Regions from separate parts of the Homo sapiens genome. Here region 2 is linked to region 1. A link means that fine-mapping ties the variant in region 1 to the expression of a gene that starts in the linked region. Tissue or cell type: left ventricle. Region 1 holds a variant in brackets; the other region holds the start of a gene. All regions are shown on one strand. Distances are from middle to middle.

What was found. PIP is the estimated chance that this variant, and not a neighbour inherited with it, causes the effect. A credible set is the group of variants that fine-mapping cannot tell apart.
Region 2: it holds the start of TBL1XR1-AS1, and the variant in region 1 is the best candidate, but not a certain one, in a credible set for the expression of TBL1XR1-AS1 in left ventricle (GTEx, PIP 0.57).

Annotation. Positions count from the first base shown.
Region 1 is chr3:177,108,278-177,119,941 of GRCh38, reverse strand. The region is part of intron 1 of TBL1XR1 (TBL1X/Y related 1); the gene reads left to right. Among named protein-coding and RNA genes, the nearest start is that of TBL1XR1-AS1, 77 kb to the right of the region's middle. The variant AT/T (reference allele first, on the strand shown) is at 4,949.
Region 2 is chr3:177,032,905-177,042,638 of GRCh38, reverse strand. TBL1XR1-AS1 (TBL1XR1 antisense RNA 1) reads right to left here and starts at 5,234. Exons shown (of 4, transcript NR_174966.1): 1 at 4,895-5,234; 2 at 4,189-4,277. TBL1XR1 (TBL1X/Y related 1) reads left to right here. Exons shown (of 16, transcript NM_024665.7): 11 at 4,205-4,326; 12 at 4,467-4,541; 13 at 8,314-8,441; 14 at 9,503-9,668. RefSeq lists a silencer at 769-1,013 and enhancers at 2,424-2,718, 4,060-5,259.

The sequences.
Region 1 (11,664 bases):
GTTAGCAAAAAGGAGGATATCCCAACTCTTTCTCCCTGAAATTTGAAGTAACTAATACCAAGGGCAGTGGTTGCATTACAATAAAATGACCATGTAGAAAATGGGTGAGGTTGGTATAGAGCACTAATTCAATACACAGGACCAAGGATTCTTTGGAATGTTTCTTCGTGTCGTGTGGTTGATTCTGGAGCTTCTAGCCACGCAAGTATGCCAGTTGATCATGGAGGAACATTAAATGGTCACAGAAGTATAATCTAAAATAATCTGCAAAATTGGTAATTGGTGTTGTTGCCTAGACTGGGATCTGGACCAGCAGTGTATCACAATGTAGTGAATGGTCACTGTTTGTTCAGCAAATTTCAACAATTTCTGTTGCGGGACAGTTAAGAAACAAAGACAGTATATGAATAACCATTCTATGTAGGTTTCTCTGCCTCAGGATTCAAAACACCCCTTCCCCTAACCATTCATGTCTATTTACTTATCTAAACAAAATCAAAAGAAGCCCTAATTATATAGGAATCCAGCCATCGATTGGAAAAATAAAAGAGATGGGACCATATTTTATGACAAGTTGTGGAAAAGGTTCCAGGATCAAATTGGGTAGGGTGTAAATATTCTTCACCCGTGGAACTGCTGTGGTTTCTTTTCTTTTAAAACCTGATTATCAGCCAGGTGCGGTGGCTCACGCCTGTAATCCCAGCACTTTGGGAGGCTGAGGTGGGTGGATCACCTGAGGTCAGGAGTTTGGAGACCAGCCCGGCCAACATGGTGAAACCCCATCTCTACTAAAAATACAAATAGTAGCCGGGTGTGGTGGCAGGTGCCTGTAATCCCAGCTACCCGTGATGCTGAGGCAGGAGAAGTGCTTGAACGTAGGAGGCGGAGGTTACAGTGAACCGAGATCATGCCACTGCACTCCAGCCTGGGGTACAAGAGTGAAACTCCGTCTCAAAAACAAAAAACAAAAAAAACCTGATTATCCAGGTTTTTCTTTGTTTTTATGAGCTTATACTTTCTATAGGTCCCATTTTTCTTGAGTTATTATGTGGAGTTGCTGTCTGGTTTGCAGGCAATATGCCTGAATGGTTACAATGCTAAATCGTATCTCTTGATTTTATAAAAGTTCAGTTTGAGAAACTGACAAAATACGACACTTGCCATATATTATAATGTATTCATTTTGTCTCTACTCCCCCATTAAAATACAAACTTCAGGGTGGTTTCTTGACTGTTGTTCTTAGCATCTGAAATGAAGCATGGCAAATAGTACACATTCAGTAACTAGTTATTAAATGAATGAAGAACTATGATATTTGACAGCATTACATGCAACTAAGCCTCATAAAGAAGGGAATTCACAAATGGATTCTCTTTAAAGTCTTCCTAATGTCTGTCTTTTTATTTCCTTTCTTCTTCCTTCCGTTGTGGGCTTTGTTTTGATCAGTGAAAGGGTGAGTATAAGAAGCTGCATTTTAAGTTTTCAGGAATCTAGTCATGCCTTTGGATAAAAATACCGTGGTCACACTTTTAGCTTTGATGAGAAAAGGGCCTCATTAGGTCATTTTGAGTCATTAGGCTCAATGTTAAAGCTACTCAGCGATGAGGGCATGAAAGACGTATAGTTGTTTGTTCACAGTGCTTGTCCTTAAATAGGCTCTTAAATGAGTTAATGAATGAATGAATGTTCAAGAACTCTTTAGAGACTTTGAAAAGATCGAGTGATTTTGAAATAACAGACTCTGGGATCTGGAACTTCTATATTCGCATGGAATAGAACTAGTTTCTTAGAATGTGGGTAGTCATTGCTTGAGCTTTCTACTAATATGTCCTGAGTCTCTGGCTGAGAAGAGTGGATAAAATGGTAGGTGAGGTAAAGAAAGAAAGTCACAATTCGTATACTACCTATAAAAGATTTATAAATGGCCATTGGCCCTAGATTCCTGGTTTCTGATTTCTTACTACCTACGATAGACTCCTGGTTTCTGATTTCTTACTACCTTGCATAGTATAAAAATAGCAAATTGAGGGGGTCAGAATGTTCAGTGGTTATTGGTTGACATTCACCTTTTTTCCTTCCCATTGAACCCATTCTGCTCTTTAATACTGCTTCTTTGCCCTTGGAAAGAAATCGCCAGTTTTACTTTATATTTCTCCCAATCAGTGGCATAGAAGTAGAGTTTATTAAAGCTCTAAGTAAGATTTGTTGAATTCTTTCAAATTAGAAGATTAGTCACTGTACTAGTGGAATTTGAAGTCAAGACTGAATCAAAGTGTTAACATTTTCATTACTGCACTAGAAAAGATGCATATTAATAGAATTTATAGAGCACATTAGATTTCCCTGTGTAGCAAACAATCTGGGAGACCCGAGAGCTTATGCTGCCTATAAGGAACTACGCTGAATGGGAAACTGGTATTTTCTATGACTGTTTTAACATTATTTTGATGTCATATCTAAAAGGGAAATTTTAGACTGTGCAGATAATTCAGCAATCTGCATGACTTTCAATACCAAAATAAAGGTACTATTTTAAAATACTGTGTAATTATGGAGCAGGCTTTAATGGAAGCCTTATTAAATTTACCCATTATTTGCTGTTGCTGAAAATATCTTTCCCAGGAATTCAGTGTTGCTATTCTAGGCAATAGTTTCATTGCTTCGCAGCTACTATTTGGAAGACAGGGAACAGGAATAATAATACTAGACTGATGTTTGTTTAAATAGTGGAGATTTGATTAATCCAGTACCCACTATAGATTATTGGTTGTGATGTTAGTTAAAAATGGGCATCATTTCTTCAAAGCCATAATCTTGACCCACTCCTGCAAATTCTTTTTTCTCCCTTCTCATTTATATTCAGTATTTATTCTAGAATCGTTACCCCATTTTCGGAATGCCAATAGCAGTGTGTTTAGAAACCGGGTCATGTTGTTTTTATAAGATAAACTGCATAATGTTCCTAAGCACAGAAAATAAAGCATTCTGGACTTTCAGACTGGGTGGATTGACAGTTTATTTCAGCAAATCTTGTACTTCTGGTAAAGGACAGTTCAGTGTTTCCCATCATATAGAAAATCTAGGAAAAATAGCAACAGCTACCATTTATTAAGTGCTTTTTATTTCCCAGGTACTATTACGTGCTTGATAATGCATTATCTCATTTAGTTAACATAACTTTCCTCTGAGAGAAGATACCATTACAATCTTGTTTTACTGATGAGAAAACTGAGGTTTAGAGAGGTTAAATAACCAGCTTGTTGTTTGATTCTCAGTGGAAGGTAGAGTAACAGTATTATTGTAGTTCTTATTCTATCCCATATGTTCTCGGCATTCAAGTTACAAAGCTGGATAAGGCATCTTTCAAGATACATACCTTCTAGTGAAGGGAGACAGGCATGTAAAATGGATATCCACAATGGTTAGTAGGATGTGAGTGATCTAAAATTTAGCCAGAGGATACAGCATTTCCAAAGTCTGCTAATGTAAGAGGAGTTTGGGAAACTAAAAACATACACATGTCAAGTTGCATCCTAGAAATAGAAGGTCATGGTGCTTAGTGCTTACTTACAGGAAATGAGGGAGGAGAAGGAGCCATATCTCTAGTTTGGGTGACAAGTTGGGTGAAAGTGGCGCCATCCACCAAGGTAGGAAATACGAGAAGAGGAACAAGTTTGGGGTGGGAGATGAATTAAATTTATACATAGAAAATTTGCAATGCATTGTGTGACATGGGTTGGGGGGAGAATGATGATGTCTAGTTGGTTTCAAGTAAGTAAAATACCATTTTAAACAAATTGTGAGACAGGAAGGTACTGTTTTTCAAAATTCCATTGCCCTTAGTGTGATGAATTCCATCAGGTTTATTGCCTGGGTTGGAAAATGGCTACTGCTGCAGGAGGCATCATATTTAAGCAGGAAGAAGTGCTGCACCTGTTCTTTATTTTCATTAAAGCAAAAGCTTCCCCTGGCCTCCTCATTCCTTCCCTAGCGGACTTCTGAGGCCTTACCAGCCAGAACTGATCAATATGGCTGCCTCTGGCTGCAAGAAAGGTTAGGAAAGCAAGTATTTATCTGGGCCTGTTGCTGCTTTGAAGAAAATTAGAATTATGTTAGCAAGGAGGCTGAAGGCATCTGAAGAGTTGTTAAATGAATAGTTAATTAAGCAGTGCCTCAACAAAGAAACCCATTACTACTTCTTGCTTCAAAACTAAAAAAATCAAAAGCTTAAATTTTAGATATCCAATGATGTTCAATTATAAATTTTGGGATGCATTAAAAACAATTTGGGCTGTAGACCTCAAAGTTGCGGGGAAAGAGTGGAATGAGGCGTACGGATAGTGTGATTGAAGGGGGGTCAGTAGGCAGCATAGAGAGATTTGGGGAAGAATTGACCAAATTTTGCGGTTGTGGTGGACAAAGGAGGCAGAGCAAAGGGGTGTGACCCTCAGGCTTTTGGGTTGGGTAGTGAATAGCAGTAAGCAGCACAATATGACTATGATAATGACTAGTGTTTTTGTGCCTTCCAAGACTTTTTGGTAAACTTCCAAAAGGAGAAAAATGATGTATTTTAAAATTTCAGTCTCTCTTATAAATACTGATTATGTTATTAAGTAAATTTGACCTGACTCCATCAGGTGAAGTTCCTGATTTTTAAAAGTATCATCAGTTTTTTTAACAGTTACATCCATATAGTATTGCAGGAAGTAGTTAGTTGTATGAAATACTATAGGTCAAAAGTAATTGGAAGCTGGGTCAGGTAGATGGTTAAAAAGTGTACTTACTGGTTGATGGCATTACACTGTACTCTGGTGGGGGCCCAAGATCCTTACTGTATGGAGTCCATCCTGCCCATGGCACTGTGGCAGTAAGACAATATGGATGTAGACCGCCTCACTCCTCCTTACAGTGATACTTTAATTAAAAATCATTATTATTATTATTATT[AT/T]TTTTTTCCCCAAAGTGACAAGGTCTTACTCTGTTGCCCAAGCTGGAGTGTAGAGCTGTCATCATGGCTCACTGCAACCTCAAACTCCTGGGCTCAAGGGGTCCTCCTGCCTCAGCCTCCCAAGTAGCTGGGACTACAAGTGCATGCCACCCTGCCCAGCTAATTTTTAACATTTTTTTTATAGAGATGGGGTCTTGCTGTGTTGCCCAGACTTGTCTCGAACTCCTGGGCTTAAGCGATCTTCCCATCTCAGCGTCCCAAACCACTGGGATTAGAGGTGTGAGCTACCGTATCTGGCCAAACTTTTTTTTTTTTCTTTTTAATTTTAAAAAAGTGACATACGACATTATGTTTTTGTCATGTGCAACACAAATCTTTTGAAATACATATATTGGCTGGGTGTGGTGGCTCATGCCGTAATCCCAGCACTTCAGGAGGCCAAGGCAGGAGGATCTCTTGAGCCCAGGAGTTCAAGACTAGCCTGGACAACAGTGTGAGGGCCCGTCTCTACAAAAAGTTAAAAATTAGCTGGTCTTGCTGGGCAGCTACTTGGGAGGCTGAGTCAAGAGGATCTTTTGAACTTGGGGTTGGGGAGGTGGAGGTCAAGGCTGCAGTGAGCTATGATAACACTGCTGTACTCTAGCCTGGGCAACAAAGCAAGACCCTATCATATATATATCATATATCATATATATGTATCCATATATATGATGTGTGTATATATATATGATTATATATATGAGATGTATATATATATGATGTGTATGTATATATATGATGTATGTATACATATAGAGAGAGGAATGGTTGAATCTAGTGAATTAATAAATGCATTACCCCATAGTTACCATTTTGTGGTAAGAGCACATAACATCTACTCTACATTTTTCAAGAATATGCCATTTTTAACTTTAGTCAAATTGCTGTATAATTGATCTCTTGAAGTTTATTCTTTTTGTCTAACTGTAATTATGTATCCTTTGACCAACATTTACCCAGTAGTGGGATTGCTGGATCATATGGTGGTTATTTCTGTTTTAAATTTTTTTTTAGAAACCTTCATATTATTTTCAGTAATGGCCACCAACAGTGTGTTAAGGATTCTCTTTTCTCCATATTCTCAGCAGCACTTGTTGTCTTTTGTCTTTTTGATAATGTTCATACTGACTGGGGTGAGATAATATTTCATTGTGGTTTTGATTTTCCTGATGATTAGTGATGTCGAACATTCTTTCATAAACCCGTTGATATTTGCATGTCTTTTGAGAAATGTCTATTCAGGTCTTTTGCCATTTATTTATTTTTATTTAATTTTTAAATTGTTTATAGAGATGGGGTCTCCATATGTTGCCCAGGCTAGTCACAAACTCCTGGCCTAAAGCGATTCTCCAGCCTTCACCTTCTAAAATGTTAAGATTACAGGCATGAGCCACTGTGCCTGGCCATTTTGCCGATTTTAAATATTAGGTTATTTGATTTTTTGTTATTGAGTTGTCTTAAGTTCTTTTAGATATTATTTGTCAGATACATAATTTGCAAATATTTTCTCCTGTAGGTTATTGTTTTTCTCTGTTTATTGCTTTCTTTGCTGTGCAGAAGGTTTTGGTTTTATGTAATCCCATTTGTCTATTTTTGCTTTCGTTGCTTGTACTTTTTGAGGTCCTATCCAAAGAAAATCCTTGCCCAGATTGCTGTCAGGAAGTGTTCCTCTTGAGTTTTCTTTTAGTAATTTTCTAGTTTTGAGTCTTATGCTTAAGTCTTTAATCCATTTTTTTTGTTTAATTTTTGTATATGGTGAAAGATAAGGGTCTACTTTCATTTTTCTACATGTGAATATTCATTCTGTTTCCCCAAAACCATTTATTGAAGACACTGTTCTCTCCCCACTGTGTGTTCTTGGCACCTTTGTCAAAAATTAGTTGACTGTAAATGTGTAGATTTACTTTTGGGTTCTCTCTATTCTATTCCGTGTGTGTGTGTGTGTGTGTTTTGAGACAGTCTTGCTTCATCGGAGTGCAGTGCCACGATCTCTGCTCACAGCAACCTCTGCCTCCCTCCGCCTTTCAGATTCAAGCGATTCTCCTGCCTCAGCCTCCCGAGTAGCTGCGACTCCAGGCACATGGTACCACGCCCGACTAATTTTTGTATTTTTAGTAGAGACGGGGTTTCACCATGTTGGCCAGGCTGGTTTCGAACTCCTGACTTCGTGATCCGCCCGCCTCAGCCTCCCAAAGTGTTGGGATTACAGGTGTGAGCCACCGCACCCAGCAGGTCTTTGAGGGCTTTCACAAAAAAGTGTTCTCATACTTTTCTTTTTCTTGAAAAGTAGAAATTTGGCCGGGCACCTAATTACTTGTTTTTAAAACGGACAATATTATGTACTGTACAAAATAGTCAGATTTAAATGATACTGAGTGTGCCAGCAATGTAGAGTTTAATACTCATTTTATCACCTCTGATAAGAATGTTTAACCATTTCCGATCTCAATCTGTATGCATAAAACAAAGGGGATTGAATGAGACAGCTTTTCTTTAACTGTCCTATGATCAAAACAAGTTTTCCATGCTATTTAAATGATACTTTAGGCCGGGGGCCGTGGCTCGTGCCTGTAATCCCAGCACTTTTGGAGGCTGAGGTGGGTGGATCACCTGGGGTTAGGAGTTCTAGACCAGCCTGGCCAACGTGTCAAAACCCCACCTCTACTAAAAATACAAAAATTAGCTGAGCGTAGTGGCAGACGCCTGTAATCCCAGCTACTTGGGAAGCTGAGGTGGGAGAATTGCTTGAACCCGGGAGACGCAGGTTTTAGTGAGCCGAGGTGGTGCCACTGTACTTCAGCCTCGGCAACAGAGTCAGAGCCCCTCACAAAAAAAAAAAAAAAAAATATATATATATATATATATATATATATATATATTTGATTTTATATCTTTGTTGTCTTATTTCTTAGAAGGCAGGAGATATTTTCTTCTTCGTTTCAGGGCCTAGTTCTTATTTTTTAAAAGGCTTCAAAGGATCTTAGCAGTCAATCCAATAAACCCAGTCATTGCTTGTTGGTGGTGAGTCTTAAGAGGCTTAAGTTGTAGGCCTAAGACCACTGGCACCCTACAGGCAGAGTTGGGATGAGGACCCAGGTGCATTGTAAAAGGTTCCCTAAACCGTTTCTCTTTCTGTGAATAAATGACCTTGGTTTAATGTTTAGCTCTGACTCATCTGAAATCTAAAGTGAAATGTCAATATTAACAGCCACCATATAGGGTATGGCAAAGAGATTCCTGACACGTGAACTGCACCTGGTTTGGGAAGGTGTGATGCATTCTTAAAACAGCATATCCTTCGTGGATTGGGTGCCCTGGAAGATATGTCCAGGAGATGCTTATAAGATGATAGTGGGCCTGGCGCAGTGGCTGAAGCCTGTAATCTCAGCAGTTAGGGTGGCCTAGATGGGCAAATAACTTGAGGTCAGGAGTTCAAGACCAGCCTGGCCAGCATGGTGAAACCCAGGCTCAACCGATCCTCCCAGCTATTTTGTCTCTACTAAAAATACCCAAATTAGCCTGGCATGGTGGCATGCACCTGTAGTCCCAGCTACTCGGGAGGCTGAGGCAGGTGAATCGCTTGAACCCAGGAGGCAGAGGTTGCAGTGAGCCGAGATAGCGCCACTGCACTCCAGTCTGGGCAACAGAGAAAGGCTCTGTCTTTAAAAAAAAAAAAAAAAAATCAATCATAGTGGTTTCTCAGTGGAACTCAGGTGTGTCTAACCCAGGGTAACTTTTGTATCGTTTGTGGATTCTTTGCCCTTTGCATACCTACCTGAATAATGATATGGTGATGGTGATGATAGTAGGGAGAGGTGCAAAGACAATAGCTCCTGGATTGCATGTCCTCCTGTTGTGTGCCTGGCGTGATACTGCCCTGCTAGCCTGTCCTGTCCTGTAGCTTTCTCTGTAAACACATGCCAGGTGTGGCCTACTTAGGTTTTGTGAATTTGTCTAGTTGAGTCTGAGTTGTTAGAGCAGTTCCTTTCAACTGTTGATTTGCTTGACGTGAGATCAAGGGGGTGAAAATCATACACAACACATTTTTTTCCTCTTTGTTTGAAAGATATTTTCCTCTTCTGGACCCTATCTAGAAGAAGTATTCCTTAGACAATTTCCGGCTTCTTTTCTCTCATGAAGAGGAGGTAAGATTTTTGTTCTCACACTTATCTGCTTCCCAAAATATCCCCCCCGTTCTCATTAAGTTCTGACCACTCCTTCCTCTCATCTCATTTAATTCTTATTCATATCTAGAATTGTGTTTTAGGTACAATAGTAGGCATAAGTCACAGACATACTGTCATTTATTCCTGTGCATTTACAATAGAAGGTATTGAAAAAATTCAGCTTAGTGTCTTCATAGTTCTAGCTTTATGCATTTTCACAGACATTTATCCTTTGCCTCCTCTTTGTCTTCTGCTGAAGAATAGTGAACACAGTAGGGAAAAAAAAACCACAAAACCAAGACCAGGTGTTCTTAAGCAAAGAAGTTCTGGTTTGTGTTTTGTTATTTTTCCCTAGTCAGGTATTTTAAATTCGTAATGGTGGGTGTATAGCCCTAGATACATTGTAAGCTTTGCTGGATATTTACAAATTGTTGCCTAAACTGTAGAAGGGCTTAAGTCATTAGACATTCTATTTTAGTGACATTTTTCTGTTTTTCTGTATCATGTGTCTTGGAAAAACTTTGAAGTTCTTTGATGTTAATTTTGTAAGAATGTGTGTCTGAAAATATTTTGACTGAATAGACTCTGGGTTACAGTTAAGAATTTCTTTGATTTGGCACATCTTCTCTTTAGCATTTCATAGCTTTTATCATGGCCTGCATATACAACATGTCAATTATAATGCCTGATAGGTCTCCTAGGAGTTGTAGCTTCACAATATATAGGAGGCATCAGGCACAAATCGATACTGCAGAGAAAAAATTAGAGTAACTAAAACATAAATGACGTATTTTGTGAATAAGGAAGTGTTCTAGGTATGCCTTCCAGTAGTAAGCGGACAACACCAAGATATAAGGCACGTCTTCATACATCATTGTCTGTACACAGAACATCGAGCATACAGGAAGCTTCCTGAGTATCTTGCTGTCTCTCAATTGAAATACAAACCAACTCTGGCTCTGACCATCCTACTTTAATATTGCAACCCAGGGGTTCCTCTTTCACCTCTCTTCCCCCCAACTTCTGAATCCCTTTACCCTGCTTGGACTTTTTCTTTTTTCATAGCATTTATGATTGTAACATTACTTATTAATCAAAATTCTGCTGGAATTTAAACTGTGAGAGAGCAGGGATCTGTGTTTTATTTACTGATGTATTTTAGTAAGTTTTGTCCCCAGTGGGTGAATTAATAGTAACTCGATGTAAAGGGCTAACTTTTAATGTTAACAATCTCTAGTAGAAAGGTTAATTACAATTTGTTTTTTCTTCCTTCTTCCTTTCTTTCCCCACCTCTTCTTTCTTCCCATAGTTCTGTTGTCTACTGCAGGACAAATCTTACAATCATCCCAAAATACAAAAACAAAACAACCTTCTGTTTAGTCTTGGAGGTAAACATAGGCTTTAAATTACATTTCTTCCTATTCTCTTAAAGGGGACTTGCTTGATAGTTTGTATTTTCTTGAGTAACTAATGCATTTCTAATGGAGAGAGTTCATTTAGTGTGCAGGTTCTTTGTTTCTGATTGAATGTTTGGTTGCTTTCATATTCAGTTTATGTTCAATTAAAAAATTGGGAAAAGGTATGAAATTGACAATTTTAAATGTAATTTTGTTTATATATTAACTTGTTTTTAAAAATTAATTACAAATATACAATTTACTTGTTTTTTCCCCATATTTATCTGTGAATTAGATTATGATTTAGGATTGTTAGAAAATGTGAAAAGAAAACATGTTTGACAATAACATTTTCATCTCTATTATAGAAGTGATTTTTGGTATCCAGATATCCTTATCCCATCAAAAAGCTAAAATGCAAGCTCATTTTCTGTTAATTTTTAAGATGGGCATAACATTTCTTCTCATCGCTGCTTGGTGAACATTAGCTAGTATTGCCACAACTTATGGCCAGTGTTTTCTGTTTCTTCCTTCCTTCTATTTGCTCTGGCAAAGAGGACGCATTTCCAGGACCAGTCTCAGCTAGCCCAGTGTCTTTATTGTCTGTTTCTTTGTTGTTTGCATTAATAAAAATACCATTAGTATTTTTTAAACTCATGGAAATTCATAATTCAAACAATTTTTTTGCTTAGGGAGTTGATTCTTTTTGTTCTTTTAATACTATACTATTTTTAACCTTTTTGCTCCCTTTTAAACTATACATGCAGTTATAATTAACTGATATTAGTATTACTTCTGTGCGAAAATGCCTTTAGGCATTCAATAGGATTATAAATCCTAGTTTATTTTCTTTACAATAAGCCAAACACTATGTTCATACTTGTTATCAAGCTGTCTAATACACTATATAGATGAAGACACTGAGGGCTTGCTTACAGTTGTATGGATATGATGTGAAAGAGCTGAGTTTTTAAACAGAACAGAAAGCCTTATTCTTTCCATTCTTACCCCCACTGTCTTTTAAGTTTCTAAAGATGGCAGAGGAATGTTGAAGTTTAATACTTATAATTTTCTTAATGAACTTCATTATTATATATAGGGCCACATAAGATA
Region 2 (9,734 bases), 76 kb after region 1:
TCTAAAGAACTTGTACTATCAAGACTCATTTTAAGAGTAAATATAAAATAAGGAGGTATGTGTTCTTTGATTACATCAATCTATAAGCACTGTATTTTATGAGGCAGGCATATCACAAAAGCGTTAATCACACAACCTACGTTGCAACATTTCCTACATCCCAACAATCTTGATTTGGTTATGTAGTTTGGTTTTGTTTTTCTTTTATGAACCTAATAGCGTGTTTGTTTTAATGCTACTTTTTGTTTATTTTAGCCTCCTCTCTAACATTTTGCAGGCTGCCCTGTATAAAATTAACACCTCTGGAACATCCTGACATATATTTGGCCTTGTGAATAACACTTTAATGTATCTTTAACTGTCTTCTAATTGGATTTTTCAGGCCTCCCTTCCCCATTTTTTTGCACTTGTTAACAATAGAAAGATTACTAACCAAAAAAATTAAAATTTTTAGAATTGTATTTTAAGTGATAATACTTAATGTCAAAATGAAAGTGCACAGTCAAAATGAAAGTGCACAGTAGTTACTGAATTAGGTTCCATGGAGGAAAACGACGTGTAAACTAGACACTCCAATAAAGGGAATTTAATACAAAGAAATATTTGCAGAGGTGTTGGGAAGAGTGAAAAACTAAGGAATAGGAGGTAACCAAGAGACTAATTGAAGGAAGTCTAAGACTCTAGAGGAGAAGGCAGGACCTGATTGTCCAGTGGGGACTGGGTTGTAGAGGATAGGCTGCCTGGCAATGCTCGACACCCAGCCTGAAATGATGGCAGTCGTGCTTGTCTTCTTACTACTCCTAACTTTGGACTCCTCACTTTGAACTCCTGACAGTGTCTTACATTGTATGAACCCATCTGGAAACCACTAGGCACAGGAACCCGGGACATAACTTACAATAGCCCTCCTGGGTTGCACATCCTAGCAGGGCAGAGTGCAGTAAGGAACGAATGAGAGTTGACTGCCAAATGAACAGGACAGTCATCCACATTGCTGTCAGAAATGGTGATACACACAAGTAGAGGCAGAGTTCACACATCATGCGGATAAAGTTGGCACATATTTTTGTTTACTAGTTGATTTAGGTTGGGTTTCTCCAAAAGGCAGGCCCTGTGCCAAACATTTGAGTGAAGTGACTTATTGTGGAAAACCTCTTAGGAGAAATAAGTGAAGAAATATGGGAAGCAGGATGGGGGGGAGGGAAGAAGCCAAGGAAGGAAGTGATTCTGGTGAAGAAAGGCCCAGTCTCAGCCTGGTGCAGAGGGGAGCTTGCACCTCAAAGTTTTTCTTACATTGAACCAAGGGTGCTAGGTCTTTAGATCTCTCCTCCCTCCCTCCTTCCCAAAAACATACACAACACCAGCTTGGATACAGAGCAGCAGAGCAAGGCAGTTCTGTGAAGTTTGTCCCTGGCAGCCCTTAGCAGTGAAGCACTCAGCTGGGAATTGGACACAGCACAGGCAAAAAGGCTTATGGGCAGGAAGAGCAAACACCAGCTAAAGCAGTGCTGCTTCATGACTAGAATAAAAATACAGCCTGCAACTTACTCAGCCTGACAACTCTGAGGTGTGATTTTTGACTATGTTTACTTTGTTGGGAATTCTCATAATTTGAAATTTTGTATAAAAGGTGAATTTATGTTAATAATTTTATATGGCACTTTGTTAAAAGGTTGATTGAGGGAGGATTAAATATTTTAAAAATATAGTTATTTGAAATTTCATGTAACCTCCATAGTAAGTTCCCATTAAATCTTTTCTTTCCAGTCTGTTTCCTTTATGAGCTTACTCTATCCAAGTGGTGTCCTGATACCTAGTTTTTCATTGTAGAAATATACCCAAAACTAATTATTTTAATGTCTGGTCATATTACTACAATTCGCTTCTTTGTTCTTTAGTACTTAGTACTTTTAGATTTGGGGCTTACCTGATTTGTCTTTAGCCAGGCAGTGAAATCAATTTCACTCTTTCCTGTTGTACTTTATCTTTTAAAAAAAAAAAATCTCAGTATAGTTCTGATTAAAATTTCCTTTCTGAGTCCTAAATGCTTTAAATCTTCTTTTCCCATTCTTTTTACTTCTCCTATCCATAGTTACAAGTTCTTACGCATGACATATCTCTTGGCTGATAAGTTTAACTGCTTAAGCACCTGTTTATGTTTCATTTTTAACATAGCCAGTTACTATTATGCTTGGATATACACAATGAGGGAGTTTGTGGCTTTGTTTTCCCTTTCCACAGACGTCTCTAATCTCCTTTATTAAATGCTTTGTATTTCTACTAATTAGTATACATAGCTAAACTTTTTGTTTTTGTTTTTTGAGACATAGTAGTCTTACTCTGTTGCCCAGACTGGAGTGCAGTGGTGCAATCACGGCTCACTGCAGCCTCGGCCTCCCCAGCTCAAGCAGTCCTCCTGCCTCAGCCTTCCAAGTAGCTGGGACTATAGGCATGGACCACTACACCTGGCTAATTTTTTATTTTTTAGAAATGAGGTCCCACTGTCTTGCCCAGGCTGGTCTCAAACACCTGGGCTCAAACAGTTCTCCTGCCTTTGCTACCAAAGCGCTGAGTCACACCTGGCCACACAGCTCAACTTTAACTCTCCTGTTTTTCCCCTTTAAGTTTTTTCTTTAAATTAGGGTTGACAAACTTTCACTAAAGGACTTGAAAGTATTTTAGACATTGTAGGCCATAAGATCTCAGTTGCCACTAATCAGCTCTGCCCTTGTAGTGAAAAAGCAGCCATAGGTAATATGCAACTTCATGCATTTGTCTGGGTTTCAATAAAACTCTTATTTATGGACACTGAACTTTAAATCTCATTTTTCCACATTTGTATGTCTTCCTTTGATCCCCTCCTCCCCCATTGCACTATAAAAGCCATTCTTGGCTTATGTGCCATAGTTTGTCAACCCCTGCTTTAAATGCAGTCTTTGATATGCTTCTGTTGCCTAACCCAGTTACTCACTATTATTACCATAATCTGTGTTGCTAATTACGGAGATCTTTTGCACCTTGCAGCAGGAGACAAGGATGTTCAATAATTTCAGAGCTAAACTCAAAGTATTAAATGCCAGCCTGCTTTGGGGCTTCAGAGATTTTTAAATTCATTGATTTTAAGGGGCATTTGATTTTAAGAGGTGTTTGACAAGAACAGATTTTAAGAGGTATTTGGCAAAAGTTGCTTAGAAGAAAATTATTTGCAAATCATATGCCGTATTCCATTTGTTAGTTGAGTAGATGATAATGGGAATGATACTTATTCAGCATAACATTTGTCTAACTCTTGTAATTGACAGAGTACTTCCACACACATGATCTCACCTGGTCTTCACCATGTGTACTAAGGATAAAGATAGTACAAGTTTAGTATCCCTTATCTAAGTGTTTGGGACCAGGATTGTGTTGCATTTTTTATTTTTATTTTTTTTCTGATTTCGGAATATTTGCATATACATAAGGCAATATCATGGGGATGGGACCCAAGTCTGAACATGAAATTAATTTATGTTTTACATATACCTTATAATATAGCCAGATGGCATCATTATACAGTATTTTTACTAGTTTTGTGCATGAAGTAAAGTTTGTATTAAGCATTTAATGTGTGGAATTTTCCACTTGTGGCATCATATTAGCATTCAAAAAGTTGCAGATTTTGGAGCATTGTGGATTTTGGATTTTCAGATTGGGGTGCTCAACTTGTGTGTTATCCTCACTCTTGTGTGTGAGGGTAACACTTGCATGTTACCCTTATCTAAAGAGGATATATCATAGAGGTTAAGTGACTTGCTTGTGTCCACTAATTATGCAGTGACAGAACCGAGGCTTCTTGTCCATTGAACACTCACAGATTTTAGAAATGAAAAGCATGATATCATCACATTTAATTTTATCATTTTATAAAAGAGAACCCAAGACCCACAGAGCCAGCTCTCAGGAACCTTCATCTCCCAGTTACTAGGCCAGTGTACTTTCTCTTAGGGTCTGTCTCACCTAGAAATAACTAAATTGAAATTTGTTAATATTGTTGTATATAGATACTTTTATTTTAATTTTTTCTTAATATCTTAAAAAGTATAAAGTAAAATGTTTAAGTGCCTGTTAGTATATTTTATTAGTCAACAATGGTTCAAAGCTAAAACTCTTGGATTTTAGTACATGTGGAATAAAAGCAAATCTAACCTTTGTTCCTTTGCAGCACCAGCATTGGATGTTGATTGGCAGAGCAACAACACCTTTGCTTCTTGTAGTACAGATATGTGCATTCATGTCTGTAAATTAGGACAAGACAGACCTATTAAAACATTCCAAGGACATACGGTAAGAAACCTTTTTTCCACATTAAAGTGGTCATGATTAACAAGTAATGTTTCAGAATAGTTTTAAAGTATGTATGTTTAATATTCAAGTAGCTACCCAGTCTATACAATGAAAATGTGAATATTTACTATTATTTTTAGAATGAAGTAAATGCTATCAAATGGGACCCAACTGGCAATCTCTTGGCCTCCTGTTCTGACGACATGACTTTAAAGGTAATTTGCTTAGTAGGGAGAAATGGGTTGGCGGTGTCACACAGTATGGTTGCTCTGGCCATTTTAAGACCATTTAGAATGTCTGTCTTACATGGAGTGTTTGTACCTGCATGAAAACTCCAACATTTTAAATGGCTAACCATTGTTTTTTAAATTTTATAGTTTCTTTTCTGAAATACATAAAACTATTTGAATGTAGCAAATTATATTAAAATGATGGCTTGTGATACAATGAGACATATGATACCCTATTAGTTAGGGCTCTCCAGAGAAACAGAACCAATAAGAAGATGGATGGATGGATGGATGGATGGATGGATGGATGAGAGATTTACTGTGAGAAATTGACTCACGTGATTATAGAGGCTGAGAAGTCCCACAGTCTGCTGTCTACAAGCTGGAGACCCATGAAAGATGGAGGTGTGGTTCCATTCCAGGGCCAGAGAAGGAGTGCCAATGGTGTAAGTCCCAGTCCAAGAGCAGAAGACCAATATACCAACTCAGCAGTCAGGCTGAGGCAGAGAATTCTTGCTTCCTTGGCGGTTTTGTTCTGTTTAGAGCCTCACTGGACTGAGTGATGCCCCCCCCGCCGCCCATTGGGGAGGGTGGCAGTCTGCTTTTCTCAGTCAGCTAAGTTAAATGCCTGTCTCAACTGGGAACACCCTCAGACACAGCCGGAAATAATGTCTCACCAAATATCTGTACCCTGTGACTCAGTCAAGAAGACAGATAAAATTAGACATCACCAATAGTAAGAAAGGTCATGCTATAAATTGTCTTCACCATTAGAAAGTCATATGTTGAGGCAATTAAAGTTTATTTGCAATTAAAGTTTATTTGCATATGTAAAGATTTGACTTAATAAGTACTCAAAATCTTTGTAGCATTCATGGATTTGATTGGAATTCTTTGCGTTGTATTAATTTGATTTTGCTGTGGTATGACTATGTATCACCATTGCTGGGAAACTGATACATAGCAGAGAATCTCTCAGTGAGCGAGCCTAGTTGACATACCAACATCCACATCTCAACATGGATCTCTGTTTTTCTTGTTGTATGACTAAAAGCAAAACTGCTGTCTCGCACCTAAGCACACCAGATTCCTCATTTGGGGAAAAAAGCATTTGGAGATAAAGAACAACGTAATACTTATTTCCAAAATAAATGAAGCTTTGAGCCCTCTCCTGCAACAGCTAACCCTCTACTGAAAACAGTTTTATCCTTGACTTTGCAGTACCAAGGACTGCAGATGTGATGACCGTTACAGATATGAAAATCATGAGGGAAAACTGATTTTCCTGCTACTATGAACAGATTAAATTTAACTTTGCGAAACTTGTGAGGTTTTCTCCTTTAAGTATCTGCTATGTTTTTAGACAGTTCTTCTTAAGTCTGGGCTCCCTTACAAAATTGCTAGTATTAATACTCTTCTTAATGCTTTCATCTTTGGCTTTTCCTTATGTGCACACGTATTAATGCTTATAACATGAAAAAAACTTCTTCTGGAACTGTGTGTGACACATATGAGGAAATGACAGAAGGGCAGTGTCCAGAGGGCCTTGTGCCACATATTGAGTTGAAGCTGGAGAGAGGTTAAAACTAGAAATTGTTAGAGAGCTTTTCTTCATCCTAAGAATGTTTAAATGTCACAAAGGATTTTAAAGCAAAAACTAGGATGGATGGATAATGTGTAATGGGCCGTTTTCTGAGAAGAGGGAATGCCAGATGGAATGAGAAGGTGACGCTGAGTCATGCGAATGGAGGAGATAGGTGGGACTGATGCTTAGAGAACTGTAAGCTCAAGATTAAAAACTGGGAATTCTCAGCAGATAGGTGGTCTTTAAAATCCTTGGGCATGGCCAGGCCTGGTGGTTCACTGTTGGGGTTCAATCAGGCTGGTGGGAAAAATATTAGAGATAGTTATAGAAATAGACACATATCTTCTTGGAAAACTGAGAAGTAACTTCAGTAATAGATCTGGCTGAACGCGGCCTGGTTCCTTTACCTTTAGTTAAACAAATTAAACTAGTAATAAAGGAAGGCAGGGTAGTTTACCTAGCTAGCTTGTTTACTCATATAATATTAAGACTAACCTTTGATGTGCCATGGGTGCTTAAGTGCTTTTTACTTGGGAAGTCCACAATGTCAGTTACCCTCTAATGGTGTTGACTCAAGCCTTTGTGAATTAATCTTACTGAATAAATTTGAGTCTCACTAGCGGATAGGGCCATGGTCGCAACTGTTTACAGAACTCTCCAGGGAGTCTGTAAATGGCTCGGACACCCTCAGCTGGACTGGCGAAACAGGATATCTGTGTGTTAGTGTACTTTATTCATCCATTGCTGGGTCAGGGTCTGCAGGCAGACACCCACAGCTAGTGCCCCCATGTTGCCACAGCTCATGCCTATAATTAAAGCACTTTGGGAGGCCGACGTGGGCAGTTCACTTGAGGTCAGGAGTTCAAGACCAGGCTGGTCAACATGGTGAAACCCCATCTCTGCTAAATATACCAAATTTAGCCGAGCGTGGCGGCAGGTGCCTATAATCCCAGCTACTCTGGAGGCTGAGGCAGGAGAATTGCGTGAACCCGGGGGACGGAGTTGCAGTGAGCCAAGATTGTGGTGCTGCACTCCAGCCTGGGCAAGAGAGTGAGACTTCATCTCCAAAAAAAAAAAAAAAAAATTGGGGCAGGGACAAAACTGTGTAGGTAGTACAGAGTAAGAAAAGAGGGGACCTAAAAAAGTGAGTCTTAGAAACTCTAACAATCACCAAATCAAGAGGGATGAGCTTTCCAAAGGAAACTGAGAAGGTGACTGAGAAAGTGGAAAAAGAAAGTATGTAGAGGAAACTTATTTCAAGGGAGGTAAGAGTTGAGAGTGGCCAACAGTATCAAATTCTATGAATTAGAAAGGTCTAATGAAATCAGTTCTGAAAACATGTCGTTCAGATTTATTTTACTTGGGGTTGTAAATACATAGGGCACCAAAAACACTCTGATGCTTCATTATCTTTTAATGGTTATGTCACGGAAATGTAAAGTTGAGCTGATTTTTTTCTTGGTTGGCCCTCCTTGGGTTTGGCATGTTGTATGTGTATGTGTTAAGGAGATAACTGCAGGACCTACCATGTCTTTATTGAGTGATTTTTTTTTTCCCAGAAATACTCTTCGTGTTGATTTCTATGAATTTTTGCTCAAAAATAATAGTCACTTGAAATCTATACACACAGGCATATTTTCATCTCAGGAAAGGCTTATTCTCTACTTTGACTACTTTTTTCTACTTTTTTTTTTTCCTACTTTTCATTTGAGCTTTATTTCCTATGCTACTTTTTACGGTTCTCTGTGAGTCCTCATTATTTATAAGTTGGTTATTTATTTTCAGTTCTCCATTGTAAAATTTTCCTGATTCTAAAATTCTAAGAGCAGTTTATTATGTAGATCTTTTGCTTAAGGGACAGTGTAAAAACTGTGCCTTCAACATTTTAGGATCGTTAACTAATCTCAGAACAACTATAGTTAATTCAGTCTTCAAACTTTGTAATAGTGAATATTTTTAAAGGGCTTAAAGCTAACTTTTTTTTTTAAACAGAGATGTAAATATTAAATATATCCTATTGCATTTCAGTTTCTTTGTAAATATTCTATCATCATTCTGGTTATATCACTCATGTTTTAGACTGTCCATATAATATTTTAAGTGTCAAAATAATATTTTAAATATACTCATTGTATGGAAAAATAATTGTATACATTTTTCTTTTTTGTTTAGATATGGAGTATGAAACAAGACAATTGTGTCCATGATTTGCAAGCACATAATAAAGAAATTTATACTATCAAATGGAGTCCAACAGGACCAGGGACTAATAATCCAAATGCCAACCTTATGTTAGCAAGGTGATACTTCTGTTTCATTTTTCCTTTTATGAGTCTTCTACAAATCAGACTTCCAATAGATATGACAGAAGTTTAGGGAAGATTTCATGAAGTGGAAACTTTTTTTTTTTTTTTTCCAATTTCAGTAGTTTTTGGTGTATAGGTGGTTTTTGGCTACAAGAATAAATTCTTTAGTGCTGATTTCTGTGCACTGGTTTTGCAAGCAGTGTAGTGTACCCAGTGTGTAGTCTTTTATTCCTCACCTCTCTTCTCAGCCTTCTCCCCACTCCCACCTCCAGTCCACAAAGTTCATTATATCATTCTTATACCTTTGTGTCCTCATAGCTTAGCTCCCACTTACAAGTCAGAACATGATATTTGGTTTTCCATTCCCGAGTTATTTCACTTAGCATGATGGCCTCCAGCTCTATCCAAGTCACTGCAAAGGACAATATTTTATTTCTTTTTATGGCTAAGTAGTATTCCATGGTGTATGTATACCACATTTTCTTTATCCACTTGTTAGCTGATGGGCACTTACGTCGGTTCCTTAAGGGGAATCTTTAAACACTGAGTTTTATTATTGTTTCAAGTTATAATGATATTCTATATTGAAATAATCAAATATTGACTGATACCAAATACTGATTAAAATCCAAGCAATTGAGGCATAGCAAAATCTTCAGTATCTTTAGAAAAAAAAAAGATAAATGGAAAAATGTGGTCACTTTGGTGTTCAAAACCATGCGAAAGAGGGATTATTTAGACAGAGAGGAATACAGTAAATGAGCACATTTACGTTTTCTACTCCTGGACTTGGGAGATTCCTTTAAGTTGTTTTTTTCGCTTGTTTAGCTTTTAATTTCTAGAACACTTGCTCTTCTTTCTAAATTTCATTTATTTATTATTTTCTTGTCACTGACTTGAAGATCACAGAATATTCTTCCTAACAGTCCAGTCGGTCTGCTTCTCATAAAGAATTTTGGCTATTAGATTTGGCTGAATATGGGAGGTTGGGTGGGAGCAAGGCTGGGGGAGTATTTCCTTACTTATAAATTAACTTTCTTTCCTTCCTTTTTCAGTGCATCCTTTGATTCTACTGTTAGGTTATGGGATGTAGACCGAGGGATATGCATCCATACCTTGACAAAACACCAAGAGCCTGTGTACAGTGTAGCTTTCAGTCCTGATGGCAGGTATCTGGCAAGTGGTTCTTTTGACAAATGTGTACACATCTGGAACACGCAGGTATGTCTTCATTATTTAAATGGTCAAGTGCTCTTAAATTTAGGTAGAAGCATTTGCCTATACACT